2 separate regions of the Homo sapiens genome follow, and region 1 is linked to region 2. A link means that fine-mapping ties the variant in region 2 to the expression of a gene that starts in the linked region. Tissue or cell type: monocytes after LPS. Region 2 holds a variant in brackets; the other region holds the start of a gene. All regions are shown on one strand. Distances are from middle to middle.

What was found. PIP is the estimated chance that this variant, and not a neighbour inherited with it, causes the effect.
Region 1: TNPO1 starts here. The variant in region 2 is fine-mapped to the expression of TNPO1 in monocytes after LPS (Fairfax 2014, PIP 0.90).

The regions. Positions count from the first base shown.
Region 1 is chr5:72,813,437-72,821,823 of GRCh38, forward strand. It overlaps TNPO1 (transportin 1), which reads left to right and starts at 3,225. Exons shown (of 25, transcript NM_002270.4): 1 at 3,225-3,316. The coding sequence starts at 3,302. TNPO1-DT (TNPO1 divergent transcript) reads right to left here and starts at 3,112. Exons shown (of 9, transcript NR_186518.1): 1 at 2,717-3,112. RefSeq lists enhancers at 2,792-2,871, 3,952-4,001 and silencers at 3,132-3,231, 3,272-3,491.
Region 2 is chr5:72,382,751-72,391,137 of GRCh38, forward strand. No RefSeq gene overlaps it. Among named protein-coding and RNA genes, the nearest start is that of PTCD2, 67 kb to the left of the region's middle. The variant C/T (reference allele first, on the strand shown) is at 4,434.

The DNA.
Region 1 (8,387 bases), 430 kb after region 2:
TAATTTATATTTTTAAGAATTCAAACTTTATATATTGGGTTTACTTTAAATGAGAAATGCCTGTAGATTATTTACACATTTCTGAATATTGACTACAATTGTCCTCTTCAATATTTTAATTAAATTCTTCCAAATAATTACTGAAACTTTTTTTCATAATGTCAACCTGAAGATGTTTCAGTGTAAGGCAATTCTTTAAACTACCTAATGTGAAATAATTGTCTTCCAGAAGTATAAATGGTGACAATATTTTAGAAGATCCTATTCTATTTTATTTGTTTATTTTTATTTTTTCATTTATTTTTGAGACGAAGTCTTCCTCTGTCACCCAGGCTGGAGTGCAAATGAATGGCCTGATCTTGGCTCACCGCAACCTCTGCCTCCCAGGTTCAAGCAATTCTCCTGCCTCAGCCTGCTGAGTAGCTAGAATTACAGGTGCCCGCCACCATGCCCAGCTAATTTTTGTATTTTTAGTAGAGACGAGGTTTCACCATGTTGGCCAGGCTGGCCTCAAACTCCTGACCTCAGGTAATCCGCCCATCTCGGCCTCCCAAAGTGCTGGGATTACAGGCGTGAGCCACTGCGCCCAGGCTTATTCTATTTTAGAAGCTTGCCTGTATATAAAAAATTACTTATCTTACTAGGTTTCCATATACTCACCAACAATTGCCTATTAAAGACATTTATTTAACAATTTTTGAATTTCCAGACTTACTTTTTCAATAATATTCCTCCTTCTCAAACATCTTTGATTTATATTAATGTCTAGTAATACTTTCATTCATTGCCCTCTAACAACCTGCCCTGCACTCTGCTAATGAGTTCTTTATGTAACTTATCTTACTTAATCTTGTTTCAGACAAAAGAAAGTGAAGCTCAGAAAGACTGAGCCAAAAGCATTCATAAATGGTAAAGCCAGCATCTGCATATAGGTCCTCTGCCTGCAAGCTCCACACTTGTTTTAACAATGCTACACCTGACAAAATAAGCATCTTGTCATTCCTAGGTGAAAGCTTATAGGTATGTTTTCTCCCTCAGATGCTATTTTGTAACTTCTAACATGTTTTTATTTTTATCTTGGTAAATTTTTCACCTAAGAAAATAAAATTAATACAGAAATTTTAAATATATCTATGTTTTAAAGGTAAAAACAAAGTTTATAAATTTTAACTTCATTTTTGTCATTTAAAAATTATTAATAATTCTTCAAAGTTTTACCACATGAGCATATTTAGGTATAAAGAGAAAATACTACTGGATAGCTGCTATTATATGTGCAAACTGTCAAAGAAAAATAAAATAAGCCATGTTAATAAATCCTTGTTAATAAGATTTACTGTTTAAAACATGTTTTTTTAATTTGACCTAGAAGAGACAAAAAGGCTACATGTGTAAGAATCTCTATTCAACAGAACTATTTTATATTAGTATTTTCATTCACTTTAATTTTTACAAAAGAATACATATTTAATTTGCTTAATCTCAATTTTACAACATCTGATAATCAACATTTTTTTCTTTCAAAATGTTTTGGCCAATAAATCCTCTTATGCTAAATAATATGTTACTTTTTCTTCAATTCATTTCAGCTATTTCCAAACTATTAATCAAGTGAACTCCTACTAATTGCTTAGTCAGTAGTATTTACATCTGTCATTATTTGCTAATCTTTTGGATTTTAGAAATATTTGTGTTTTTTCCTTTAGCAAAGTAGAATGCAAATACTACACATCTTCTGATTTGTATAGATCCTAGTCCACGATGTAACTTTTCAAATGCAGAAATAAGCCATTTGTTATTTGGATAAATATACTTTTTCTGGGTATATTTTCCTGCAGATAAACTACCATTCAGAAAAGTTTATATTACATTTTTTTCTTGGTAATCTACTCCTATTTGGGGGGGGGGGCTCTTTTTGATATACACTACTGTATCCAATTACTATCAAATTAATATTATAACATGTTGAAATCATGAATATTTTAGTTATCTATATTTTCCCTTGCTAAGTTCAATTTCCCAATGATTAAAAAATGGTACTTTTAGTCTCAAATTTTAAGTTAAATAAACTAGTTGTTCCTGCAAAATGACTGTAATTCAAATGAAAATTGTTAACACGTTTAGAAGAACAAATAAATTACCTTAGTAAAAATTTAGACATTTTCTAGTATTATGTACTGTAATTTTACCTAAACTATGACAGGAAGGCAACAACTGTCACACATTTTCAAAATATATACAGCACTTCCAGTAAGATAGTCGGAACTGCTGGTATTTCTACTCACACTGATCATGTGAGGAATATTATCACGGGCATCATCACCTTAGAAAATAAAAATCAGCTAGCTATGCAAATTTTAAGTATTTTTATACAGTAAATTTTACATATAAGAATAATCTGAGGGAAGGAAACTGATATTTATCTCATTACCCTTGTTGCAGTTGGGTATAAAAACGTCCACCACTCCCATTTTGAATCATTTGCCGTACAGAAAATACAGGACATTTTAATTTCTCATGATGGCAGGTTAGGGAGAGAAAGGCTTGTTATTTCTAAGAGCAAGAAACTACAGTTTTATAGGATTGAACACCTGGAGGCGTAAACATTTTATAAATCACTGAATTCTAATTACATAGTAGTTTATACGCCAGATACAACATACGTCAAAAGCCTATCTTGTTCTAAGCGGGCAGCCATCCACCGGCGTCTACCTACCGAAGCCATTTCTGCTTTTTACCAGCGACGCTGGAACAGTGTTATTGTGGGATATGTTCAGTGTTGAACAGGCTCCCAGGGCACGGCTGTTACTTTGGAGGTTATGCTGGGGTACAGAAGTTAGGCTGGGGCAGGGCCATCCACCTAGGAGGGCCCAGCACAGTCTGGGCAACCACACCGGCGGGCCGTTTTGCTCACAGCCCCACCGCGCCGGGCAGCGTCTGCAGCTGCTGCGTGCGAGACCCAGAGGCTCCGGTCAGCGCGCCGGCCGCAGGGAGTGCGAGCACTTGTGAGCCCCGCGCCGGGCCGGTGAAGTCTGGTGCTGCCGAGCCCGCTTAGAAAGCACGGCCGCGCGCTGTCGGACGCAGGCCCACAGGCCCAGCCGACCCAGGCAGCAATTTTCCTAGCCCCGCCGCCGTTGCCAAGGCGACCGCCGCCGAATGTTCCCGCCGCGGGCTCCGCCCCCCGGCCAATCGGACCGGCGCTCGGTGAAGCCCAGATTCTCTTTGTTCCGCAGCCATTTCAGGCCCCGGACAGGAGGCAGTGCCGCTTCGGCCGAAGGCCCGAGCGCCCGAGGCGTCTGGGATGGTGTGGGACCGGGTAGGTGGCGTGAGGGTGCGCGGCCCCGAACTGCAGGGGCGGGAACGGAGGCTGGGAGCGCCGAGCTGCCTGACGCGCCTACGGGAGAGACGCCGGGCTCGCCCGCTCTCTCGGCGCCTGCCCGGCCGTTTGAAGCCGAGAGGCAGCGGCGGCGCGGTTCTAACCCCAACAGCTGCCCGCCCAGGCGCCCTGCGGGACCCGGGTAGGGAGCAGGCGACGGCGGCTCCTCAAGCGTCCGAGGATCCCGTTAGGGGCGGCAGGAGCCCGTTACAAGGGGCGGGAAGGGAAGGGTCTTACATTCAGGGGAGCGTTTGCCTCGCCTGTTAAGCTGTGGCGTTTGAGGGCCCTTGAGTGCTGCAGTCGGCTGCCCCGGGACGGCTGCCTTTCACTGGTTCTGGGCGCTGGCCGGCGCTGCCCGAGATGGGCCAGTCTTTGTCCCGCCCTGGGCCCCTCTGCCCGGGTCTCCTGCGTCCGCACACAGCGCCCATCGTCCTTACATGCAGCTTGCCGTTCTCTTCCTCCCGGCGGTTCTTTCTCCTTGGGGCCTCTTGGCCTCACGACATGTTTACATAATGTTTGTGACTGTACGAGTTTTGCGTGGGCTTGTGGGTTTTGCCCTTCTACCTCCACTCCCATGCGTACAAGCAACAGGGAACAGCTGCTGAGGAGCAGATTGGCCACCACAATCAAGCTATTTTCGGAATGACTTTCTTTAAAAATGATCGCGTGTTGCTTACTGATTTTAAAAATCAACTGGATTTTGCAAGGATTGCTTAGAGTTTAAGTCTGTTATCTTAATCGCTAATCAGGATGGTCTATCAGTAGATGTAAATGTAGAAATTTGAAATTGGAGGCTATCTACAAATTGATTTTGACAGCTGTATTAAGAAGCTTAATAACTGTCCTTTGAAACAGTAATGACTTAAATGATGAATGTGTAAGTGGTACTTTTTTTACCCTAAAGAAAAGATACTTTTAAAATTGCAAGATGTATGGTGTAATAGGTGTTTGGAAATGAAGGTTGTAAAATGGCTGTCCTGACGTACTACTCACTTTTAGAATAACAAAAGTTCCTGCAGCTTTTTAAGTTTCCCTGTTATATCAAAGCTTTCATGTTAGAGTGGTGAAGAAGCTATGTTTAGTGGAAAAGGGGAAAGTTCCGTTTTTTGGGAAAGGATCTGTTTTCCACTTTCACCTTACCTGGCACCGTAGTTGTTCCTAGAGAAGGCTGTGCCAGGATGAAAATTAGCAACCACAAAAGGGAAACAATAGTTTGTAGGTGCAGATATCTTTTTTAGTCTCTAGCTATGCAGTGCATAAATTTATACTAGCTTGGCAGTACGATTTTTACTTCATGCAATTTAACGTGAGCCTAATGAAGTACTAGTGTTCTGTTTTCTTTTTCCTAAAAGGGGCCGCCACCCTTGATGTGGCTGCATCTTTCTCCTAGTCAGGAATTATTAAATTCCTCCCACTGAAATATCTATAAAAATCTTGTTTGCACTTCTACCTCAACTCTCAGTGGCTTTATTACCATTATATAATGTGAGCAGAATAAGATTTTTGTAAAAATACATGATTCTAGTTGTAAGCTTTTCCAATATCAACATTTCTTATTGTATTCATTGTTTTTATGACTGTAGTTTTGCTTATTTATAATTTTAAAGCCATTCCATGAACTCAGTTTTTCTAAATGTTGTAAATGAGCTACTACATTGAAATGTAAACATCTGTATTTAGAAGAATTTCTTGAATTTTAACCATGTTGGATTCTGCAAATGTTTTTTTAAGAAAAGAAACCTGGTTATAAAGTGACGTCAAACCAAGTGACATAGGTAATGAAATAAATGAATTTATCAAATATAAACTGCAGAGAGGAGCACAGCAGTAAGTGGGGGAGTTCTTTTTATTGGCCAGGGTATAAATTGTGATATTTTTTCCTGAGATTGATATTTGAATACATATTGGTGCTAAAAAGATATCTTCCCCCCTCAAAACAGTTTGGTTTACCAGCAAAAGGATGAGAAAGCTGAGAGAATCAAAGAAACTGATGAGGTTTTCAAAAACAATGGCGAACAATGCCATCCTCAAAGAGGAAGGATCAGAAACAGTGAAATTCCCCTGGAGGTTGAGGATTTTTCTTAGTTGACCCTATTCAGCCATTGCCATGGTAAATCTGTTGAGTGTTGGCAGGTGAAGGAGTCTTCTGGGTTGTACAAGGGATGAGCTTCACAATGGAAGACAGATGTTTGCAAGAGTGGTGCCTTAATCCGTATTGTGTTGCTGTAAAAGAATACCTGAGACTGGGTCATTTATAAAGAGAAGAGGTTTATTATTTAGCTCACGGTTCTGCAGGCTGGGAAGTATAAGAAGCAAGGCGCCGCCATCTGGTCAGCTTGTTGTGCTGCATCATAACCTGCTAGAGAAGGTCAAAGGGGAAGCCACCCCAGGCAAAGAGGGGGAAATCTGAGGGAAGGGCCTGGCTTTCTAACAACTCACCCTCAGGGAACTAAATCATGTCCACCAGATCATGATCAGATTTCAACATGAATTTTGATGGAGACAGACACACCATATTCAAACCACAGCAAGTGGTAACTGATTTGTAGTTGTATGCGTGGATGTTAGTTAGGAGAGGTTTTCAAAAGCAAGTTTGATTGGGTTGCTTTGAAGGGTCCTTTGAAGTACTGTAAGTTGCTGTAGTAAGTAGGAATATTAGAGTTCTAGAGTCTGAATGGTCAAATGAGATATTGAAATGGGAAATAGGGAGGTGGATTTGTCCTGGAATTTTCTGGAGTAGATAGAATACATATAGGAATAGTGGCTACATCTTAATCCAAAAAGACACTCCATGCCAGAGCGAATATTACAACTCAGTACTGAAAAAAAGCTGATAACCGTGAGACCATAAAGTTGGGATTGATATATGCCTTTTTAATGGTTAAATTTTTAAAACAAAGCAAAACTTTTCAATGTAGTGTAGAGAACAGGCGCTTTGGAGCCACACTATTTGGATTCAGATTTTGGCACCTTCTGTAATTATCTGTGTGACCTTGGGCAAGTTATTTAATCTCACTTTTTCATCTTATGTTATGAGGATTAAATGAGTTAATACACTAAGCTCTTAAAACTGGGCCTGACATGTATTAACTTTTCTATAAATAATAACTGCTGTTATCATCAATGTCATTATCACTGTTAATTATTTCAGAAAACTATAGAAAACCATAAAATAAAAATTACAAATATCAGTACTACGTAGTAACTACTGTAAGCCCTTTTGCGCATTTCCTTCCAATGTTTTTTTCTGAGTTTATTGGATTTTTTTCACAGTTGAGACTTTACTATGTGAGTAATTTTGTATTCTCACCATAAGCATTTTCTTATGCTACTTAATTATTTTGTCACCATATTTAATGTTTGCATGTTTGTGTGGATTTCTCATTATTAAACAGTTTCTAATTTTTTTGCAGTTATAAGAAACACTGCAATGAACATCCTCATACAAAAATCAATTTCTGCATTCTGGATTATTTAGAGTCCCCAAAGCAAAAATACTGAGTCAAAGTAAACATCCAAAGCTCATGGTCCATACTGCAAATTGCTTTTACTTAAGGGAATTTAATAATGAACTTATTAATATAATAAATTGAGACTACACAGTATTGTTCCTGTTGCTTTGGGATTGGAGGAATAGAGAGTGGATTAACGTTTTCCTTGTAATGTACTAGACATCATTTGTAGGCATTTAACATACATTGTCACTTTCATGTACATTTTTCTCATTTATTATGTTGGCTCTGTGTTATACATGGAAGTTACTTCTATTTTACTGATGAGAAAACAAAGTGTAAATAGGTAAGTACTTTGTCCAAGGGCTCAGAGCGTTCGAGCCTGAATCTGAATCTAGATCTGCTTGACTGCAAAGCTCATCATGCTGTTTTATTTGTATACTTTTATATCATATACATATTCAGAATTTTATACTATAACTAACTATAGATCACAGACCACATTTTTAAGATAGCTAAACTGAGCTGGGAATAATGAATGGGTAAGTTGCAAAGTTAAACAAGACAGGGCTTAACTTTCCACATTTTAGAAAAAGAAAATCTTTACCTGGATGAGATATAATTGGTAACAACTATATAAAACCGGGTTCTAAAGTGAATGCACCAAATATCTGTGGGTGCAATTCTTAATGATCTTAACACAAATAGGTGAGAGAAAACCAAAGAAATCTCAAATTTGATTAAATTTGGGGAATAAGAGAAATGAAAAGGCCCGTAAGTGCTAAAATTGAAATATACGTTTAGTAAAACTCCTGGTAAAGTAAATGAAGGTTTTACTGGGGAAACAAGCAAAAAAATATGTGTTTCACATAAGGAGAATAGAACTGCCTACAAGGTGTAGGAAGTTAAATTTATACTGAAAATTAGAGAAAAATTCATATTTGAGTTGCATTTTATAGATGACTCCGAAGCCATTAGTAAAATAATTTATTAGTGGAGCCCCTTTATCCTAGATGCATATGTTTCTACCACAAATGAAAAAGTTAATGCTAGGAAGGATAAGATTCCACCACTTTTGTTTTTACTAAGAAAGGAATTAAGGAAGAGAAGTATTTCAGCAAATCATGAATATACTAAATAAATGCAAATAAATTATTAGGAATAGGTGGTATCCAACAAGATTTTAAAGATAAGAATATAAAAGTACAGAACTATTGATTATTATGCTACCATTTGAAATTGTGTTTTTGAAAAATATTTAATGAAATTAAATATATATTTTGACTGGAGCATAGCAGAACTAGGAAATGATGAGAGAGCTAGCAAACCATGAAGGACTTTTGTGCCATTTATTAGTGCTGGGATTATCTCTTGTCGAGAGATTTACATACTAGTGGAGAAAGAGATATGTAAATAAACAAGTTCAATAAGTGTATTTACAGCTTTTGTGATATAAATCTGTAAAAACACCAAGAAAGGCCAGTAATAGATTCGTTGAATAGATTAGGGGGAATGTCTGGAGCATTTTGGGAACTAGGAACAGCATTTCAGTGAGTGTG
Region 2 (8,387 bases):
GTGAGTCAAGATTGTGCCACTGCACTCTAGCCTGGGTGACAGAGTGAGACTCTGTCCCAAAATAAATTAAATAAATAAATAAAATAAAATGATCAGATAGAAAAGGCATGGACTAGTAATTCACAGAATAAATACCTGTAGGCAAGAAAGATATGAAAAGGTGTTCAACTGCAATGGTCATTAAAATAACATTTAAAATGACCTTTTGTTTTTTGCCCATAAGAGTGACAACAAATAAATAAATGGCATCCAGTGCTGGTAAGGGTGTAAGGAATTAGCCAATCCTATATACAGTAGGTAATATAAAATTTTAAATAGGCATAGCCATTGACCTAGCAATATCAATCCTGGAAGTTCAGCCTTGAGATATTCTTCTGTGGGCATTTACTTAATAATGTTGATTTGCTCTTAATAGCAAAAACTAGAAGTTACTCACATTGGTAGTGGGTTAGTTAAAAAAACTTTGTCCATCCAAATAATAGAGTACTATATATCCCTTTTTTAAAGGGTGAATTATACCTAAATGCACTGATGTGGGAAGATTTCCATGTAGAAAAACAAGTTTTAGAAGACAATGCATAGTATGATCTGATATTCTTAAAAGGTGTACACGTGTGCACACACATTCTAAAGGGTCCTTGCCAACCTCCATTCCTTGCATCTCGCCACGCCCACCTCACACTTCGGATACCAGCGCCATAGGGAACCTCCAGCTTCCCTGATGTGTCATGCATTCTCTTAAGAACACGTGCTCTCCATCTGCCTGGAGCCCTGACCTCCTGCTCGGTGCCTGCCTAATTCCTCACCTTAATCCTATGTTACTGCAGGAATCTGGAAGGGTATACACCAAACTGTTAACATGGATGTTCCTGAGGTTGAGGTGTCAGGGTATTTTCACTTTCTGTATCATACTTTCCTGAATTGTTTGAATTCCTAATAATAATACATTGTAATTATTTTATGATTAGGAAAAAAGAACACTGCAACTATACAGACAACAACTGAAAAATAAAGAGATCAGAAGATCAGATTTTTGCCTCTTGTCCTACAACTATTGCTACATTCTGTCGTCTGTAAATTTCTCCAGTTCCAGTTAGACAGCACCCATCTGTGGACTCACAATCTCCAAATAAAGCCTGAAAAATCTAGGATAGAGGGAGTGAGATAGAGAGGAAAAGGAGGAGGTGACTTGCCAGTGATTTAAAAAGACAGAGCTTACTTCCAAATTTGAGGTTAGGAGACTTGAGTATTTTCAGTGCTACGGAATGAAAGCCCAGGCTTTGGTTCATTGCCCAGCTTCTCAGAGAAGCTAAAGAGAAATAACTTTACTAGGATCCTAGATACATTGTTTTAATTTACTCTATATTATTTAGCACCCCATACCAAAAAGAACTTCAAAGAATGTCCTTTTGTTAACTATAAAATAAATCAAAACTCAACCACTTAATTGATTTTAGGAAAACAGAGTATATTTGTAAAACCTTAGGTATCAGAATATTGAGGTTATAATCTGAGTCTCGCAATAACAAGTAGCGTTCATGTTAGCACATTCCACCCTAAACACAGCAAGTTCTTCTTTATTTTCTTCCTCTCTGTCACCTGCTGACCTCCCCACCCTCCATGCAATGAGGCTCTGGGCTCCATCGATTATCTTTCCTAAGTGCCTCTCAAATCCTTCCATGGCCACTGCTCTACCTTGGGTCCACGTCCTCTCTCGCCTAGACCACTGCCTCACCTGGTCTCCTTTTCCCGAGTGTTCTATTCTCCACATTGCAGCTACACTACTCTTAAAGTGCAAAATGTGAACATGTCCTTTCTCTGCTTTAACCCTTTTGGTGTCTCCCAGAGCTCACAAGACAAAGTCTGAACTCTGAGTCTAGGATAAGGCTTAAGAAGGCTTTCTTACTAGGCACTACCTTGGTTAGAGCAGTGATTCTCAACCCTGAGGTTTAAAAACCATTGTTTTCAATGCCAATGCATTTTGAAAACTCATCCCAGATGATTCCACCCCAAGAAGCCAGATGCCTTTAGTGAGAGAAACGCTGATGAGGGACAAGATGCTGTGTGAGGCCAAGAAGAAGGCAAGTCAGAGGTCCAGAAGTGGATGCAGCCTGGAATTTGGCATTAACCAAAGCTGGCTTTCCAGTTCAGGTTAGGCCTTTGTTCTTAGGATTTGCACCAAATAAGACTCATTTCATCTCATCGCCTGGTCCGGGAGGAAGGTGCTGGTTACATGCTCTAGTCAGGAACTCTTTGAGAAAACAATTTAAATATTGAATCTGCTCTGCTGTAAATAATGCATCAACTTATTTTGAAAAGTGAATATTTAATAAGTTGCAGTGCAGCGATTTGAATGTGGAATTTAATCTGCTTATAAAATCCACAAGTGAAAAACCAATTCATATAAATTACTATAAAGTTTCCATCACTTCTCCGAACATTTCTATATACCGGTTGCGCAAACACACTCCGTGGATGGAACAGGGGCAGGGGGAGGAATTAGATGCCACAGTTTGTTTTTATATAGTTTCTCGTTTCACTTATTTTTCTTTGCCTTCACAAAAATGAAGTCCAAACAGCATACTTCTATTGAGTATTCTTCTATTTTTTATTTATTTATTTTTTTGAGATGGAGTCTCACTCTGTGGCCCAGACTGGAGTGCAGTGGCGCAATCTTGGCTCACTGCAACTTCCGTCTCCCAGGTTCAAGTGATTCTCTTACCTCAGCCTCCCAAGGAGCTGGGATTACAGGCGCGTGCCACCTTGCCTGGCTAATTTTTGTATTTTTAGTAGAGACCGGGTTTCACCATGTTGGTCAGTTTGGTTTTGAACTCCTGACCTCAGATGATCCACCTGCCTCGGCCTCCCAAAGTGCTGGGATTACAGGTGTGAGCCACTGCACCTGGTCTTCTATTGAATATTTTAAAAAGAACTAGAGAGAGAGCAGTGTCTCTTAGGTAACTGTGCATTCTAATTTATAAGTCTTACTACAAGGGTCTTTTCCATTTATTTTTATACTAATTATGTACTCGTTGTTATTATTACCCTTGAACTAGACAGGCCTGCATTTGGATACCTGAGAGTTTAAAAATCTCTGAGAGTTACTAGTTGGGTTTGAAATCCCTGAGAGTTACTAGTTGAGTGACTTCTGGTCAATTGACTTACGCTTACCAAGCCTCTAGTTCTCTGGTTATTGTCTGTGTAAGGTAAGTATGTAAGACTTCTTAAAAACAAGCTAGAAATCGAATGCATATCAGTTCTTCTCCTCTCTTTCCTCCCTCCCCACTCCCCATCATACACTGTACCATAACCTCTGTGTTGTATTTGTGCAGTTGATGATCTCTTCTTAGGACTGAAATGTATTTTCTTGCGGTTATGTACTCTTTGATAATGTCAGTTCAGAAGGAAACATTGGCCCCACTGTAGTACAGGGGGGTATACTGTAGCACAGGAGAGCACTGGTTGGCTGTCAGGAGGCCATTCCAAGTGGCATTTATCCTGTAGGAATTCACAAGGGTTCAAGGTATTGTGTCAGCCATCCAGACATAGGACTTTATTTGTCCTATATACAGATGAAGGGTCTCTCTGCTTGGGGATTATGTATGTTAACCAAGGCCACAGAGACTGATATATACAAACCAGAATGCTGATTCTTTTCATGTATGATGAAAAATATACAATTACTGGTGAGGGGGTGGGCAGTGGTGGGGGTAGGGTGAGACAATTTATTAGAAGTACAAACCAAGGGAAATTGGCTCCACAGTGTCAATGCTTAGGTCACCCTAACAGATCTCTCTCTCTCTCTCTGTGTCTCTCCCTGTCTCTCTCTCTCTCTCTCTCTCTCACACACACACACACACACACACACACGGTTTCATTTTTCTATGTTCTAGTCTGTGCTATTCTGTTCATGCATCTCTCCAACTAAAGTCCTATAACATTCCAACCCATTGCCTTGAGTTCTCCTTGGTTGATCTCCTGGGTGTCCCAACTCTCAGATAGTCCTGTCACACTCATGGGGCTTTATTGCCTAGTTTACATGGGGGTGCTTCTTTCCTGCCTGCTGCTTCCCTCTTTGTGGGTGAAGATCAGTTGCTATAATGGCCTGGCCTTTCTTCCTCTTCCCCTTTCACTCAATTCTTCTCTTTCAGCCCCCAGGAAGACGCAGTAGCTTCTCTCCTTGGTAAATTTGGGAAAAATAAACTGGATGTAAAAAGATCAGCTTTCACCTCTATAGTTTCACTCTCCTTTTCTATGTTTTCAAGGCTAACCAGCCTCTCTGAAGACTGCTTTAAATCTTTATTCTAATATGACAATATGTTCAGTCAGCTCTCCCAGATTTTATATAACTGGGAGTTGTCTTTTTCAGCTCCCCTCAGTGCCTCTCTGCTCTGAGTTAAAATCTGTTGCTTTCAAAGCTTAATTGTCAGATG[C/T]CATTCATTCAAAAAATACTAATCAGTGCAGGTACTGTCCTGGGTTTGGGAAATAAAATGAGAAACAAAATGAACATGGTCTAGCCCTCATGAAGTTCACATTTTCATTTTATTATCTGGTCTTATTTTTGCATTCCTACCTGGGGAAAGCCTCACCACAGCACATTTTTGATGGTAGAAAGAGCTCTGAACCTTTGAATCAGGCAGATCTGGGTGGAATTCTAACTCAGCCACTCACTAGCTGTATGTCAGTAGACAGCCAATGAATTGCTCTGAGCCTTAGTTGTCTTAAAAGTTAAATTGCTATGTAGTTAAAGTCCATGATGCTGTTGTGAGAATAAAATGAAATAGTGCATGCAAAAAGTCTTAGCAGAGAACTTGGAACTGGTAAGCACCTCATAAATGTAAGAAGACACTTACTAATGTAATAAATGTACAATATAATAGCCGCTGTGCTCCCTTTTCCCCCCTGAACTTAAGCTTCTTGTGAGCTGGAACCATGTCTTACACTTCCTAAGGTCATAGTAGAAGCTCAATAAACGTGTCAATTCAATTGATTAGTTAAATGAGATTCACAATAGGCTCTTGTCTTAATTAGCCTTCTGTTTTTTTTATTGGTGATAAACATATCTGGTTTTTCCCCCAAAGCTGTGTAACTATGTAGCCATTGTAAAATATGTCTTTTAATAGCTTCATGTCTAATTTTCTATATTTCAAATATGTCTCCATAAAATCACAATAATTTTTAGCTGTGACTTTGACTAAATCTTCACTAATGTATAAATAATTTTATTGTTAAAAACTAAGAAAATTTAAACTGGTTATTTTAATAGTTTATTTATGTGTTACAATAAATCATACTGGTTATGTATACGAATGGAAGGAGACATTGACATGAAGAGTTGAAGAAAAGGTTAACATATTTTCTTTATGATTTTTGAGTACGGATGTTCCAATGATCCTGGAATTCTCATTGTTTCAAATAAAATGATGAGGTCATTGTAAAAACATCTGAGTTGAGACAGCAGAGTCATGCTTTTGCATCCTGTCCTGTGGAACTGCACTCTGATCTTCAGCTTACCACAAAAATCGGCTATAGCACCTTCAAACTGATGAAATGCTCACCTAAGCCACACTCTTCTGTCAAAGCTGGCTGTTTTCTACATCCTGGCTTCCTTGTTGCTGACTTAAAAGCTTTTCTTATTAGATTTTTATTGGAAAAGTTAACAAATTTTAGGGTATTGGCAAATTGTTCAGTAAAATTATGTTGATGATGTTAACAAGAATGTTAAAGAAAATTTTGCAGGTGATAACACACCGATGGTATGGTAGGAGTTGGGAACCTGGGCTCCCAGACCTCTCGGGGTATCAGTGGATGCTTGAACAAGGTGTTTGGGATACAAGTGGCAATGGTCCACACCCATATGTAATTTTCAGTCAAGTAGGGGAGGTAGACAATAAACACATAATTATAGATAGATAATATGTGTTAAAAGAAAAGTGAATAGGAAGCTGTAAGGAGAATAAGGAGAAGTTAGCTTTGGTAGTTGGTCAGGGGAGGCCCCGCTGAGGAGACTGAATTGAAGAAAGAGAAGGAGTCAGTTTAGGGAGGACCTGGAGAGGCGATGCCTCAGGCAGAGGAGAGCAAGGCAGAGGCTGCGTAGGATGAACTTGGCGCAGTCTCAGAAGCGTGGCTCAGCCGGGCTGGCTGGGGTACAGGGAGGACAACACCCAGCGCCAAGTTCTATTTTATTTAAAGTGCAGTGGAAAGCCACTGAGGGGTTCATAAACCAGGTCGGGACTGGAACTGATTTGCATTTTTAAGTGACTGTTCAATATTTGATGTGGAGAACATTGTAATGGGGTTCACATGGAAGCAGGAAGACCAGTTAGGAAACAAAGCGGTAGTCCAGTGAGAGATGACGGTGGCTTCTATAAGGCTGGTGGTCGTGGGCCTCAGGAAGAAAGGTGGTGTAAATCTAAAGATGCATACATAAAAATATCTCCTAGTTAGATCACTGCTTTCTTAAAATAATGAGAATTGAGTGTCTTACAGGCAATGTCGTCCTCAAAACACACACTGACATTACAGAACAATGTCTCATTTCCACATAAATGCATAGATTTGACAGGCACTTTTCATTGAATCCTCACATCTGAGCAGAAGAGAACACTCATACCAGCCATAAGCATAGGAACTCGGAGATGGTGACTGATTCTCCTGCCAAGCAAACTCCTGTTCTTCGTGATTGGCAGAGGCTGCCATGTGGGCAACAGGTCTGTCTATGTACAACTGTCTTAAAATTGGCTGGAGTATTGGGTCTGTGTGGGAGGTGTGTATTATTAAAGGTATATTGGGAAGATATAGGTAACCCTCCCAGGTTACCTTGGGAGGATGTAGTGAATGAAGATGATGTGTGTGCGTGTGTGTGTGTGAGCGTGCTAGTGTGACTTGCTGCTTTAATAGCTTATGCATCACCATAGCCAGCTATAAACGGAACAAGTTCATAGAAACTCCATTAATAAAAAGCGTCAGAGAAATGGCTTCACTTATTGACATAAGTATAAAACCTCTCCACAGTATACTTCGTATGACATCAAAATTCCTTGGCAGCAACTATAACAGATTTGAAATAAATAACTTGGTAAAATCAGTCTACAAAACCTATAGTCTGTGAGGCATAATTTGGGCCTGTTCTCTAGGTAATGAAATAATTATACAAAATGGCGTAATTTGGTTTGAACACAGTAAAGGAAAAGAAAACTCAAGACTTCCATTTAACTGTATTTTTTCTCTCAAGGTCCTGAAATCTGTGGCTTACTAGGATTTGGGAGTGGAAATCCATTTTGTTTAGGTGACTGAGATGTTTGAGGTGGGGAGAAGTTAAAAGGAAGCGGGGCTGCTACTTGAAGGTAGAACAAAAGCTGGACCCTGGATCATAGATGCGGAAAAATACTCTCTTCTCCCCTGGGTTGCATGCAGTGGGAAGACCACCCACTTCCCCAACTCCAACCCTGTCTGCCTTTCAAATCTTGTTCAAGTACCCTTTTTTTTTTTTTTTTCCTCGAGACAGAGTTTCACTCTTGTTGCCCAAGCTGGAGTGCAGTGGTTCTATCCTGGCTCACTGCAACCTCTGCCTCCCGGGTTCAAGCAATTCTCCTGCCTCAGCCTACCGAGTAGCTAGGCTTATAGGCGCCCGCCACCACGTCCGGCTAATTTTTTGTATTTTTAGTAGGAACGAAGTTTCATCATGTTGGCCAGGCTGATCTTGAACTCCTGACCTCAGGTGATGCACCCGCTCGGCCTCCCAAAGTGCTGGGATTACAGGCATGAGCCACCATGCCTGGCCTCAAGTACCTTCAATTGGCAGAACGTTATTTGCATTTAGAATCCTAAATTCAAAATAATCTGAAAATAATTGTTTTCAATTTTGCAATGAAGGAAAGCACCCAAGAAAATAGGTTGGAATTGGTGCTGAGGACCAATTCGTCACATCTGTTACAGAAGAGAGAACTGGGGGGATGATTTTAGTGGAATGAGTCTCTCCTTCCCTCAGGTCAAAAAAGAAGAGCTTCAGGGACACTACTCAGAAAGCTAGAAGTGTGTCCTCTGCAGTTTGGGCATTAGGGTGGGATGTATTCTGACTCCTGCCTGGGGAGTGTGAAAATGAGAGACACTCTGACTACAGGAGCAAAGCAATTTGGCACTGCATCATGATTGGCCTGTTCTTCTAGAGCTTCAGATTCAAGAGGAAGAAAGTAAAAGGAAGCATGAAGGTTTCTGATGTACTTGATGGCCCACATTCCAAAGAGAGCTGATGTGGAGTTGATTCATGTCTGTCCATGTGGGTTGTCTGAAGAGGAGAAGGGGCTTCACCAGGAAGAGGCTGGAGGTCAGCCATGAAATTCTTAGGAGTGAGGAAAGAGGTGTGGCATGGAACAGGAAGAGAGTAC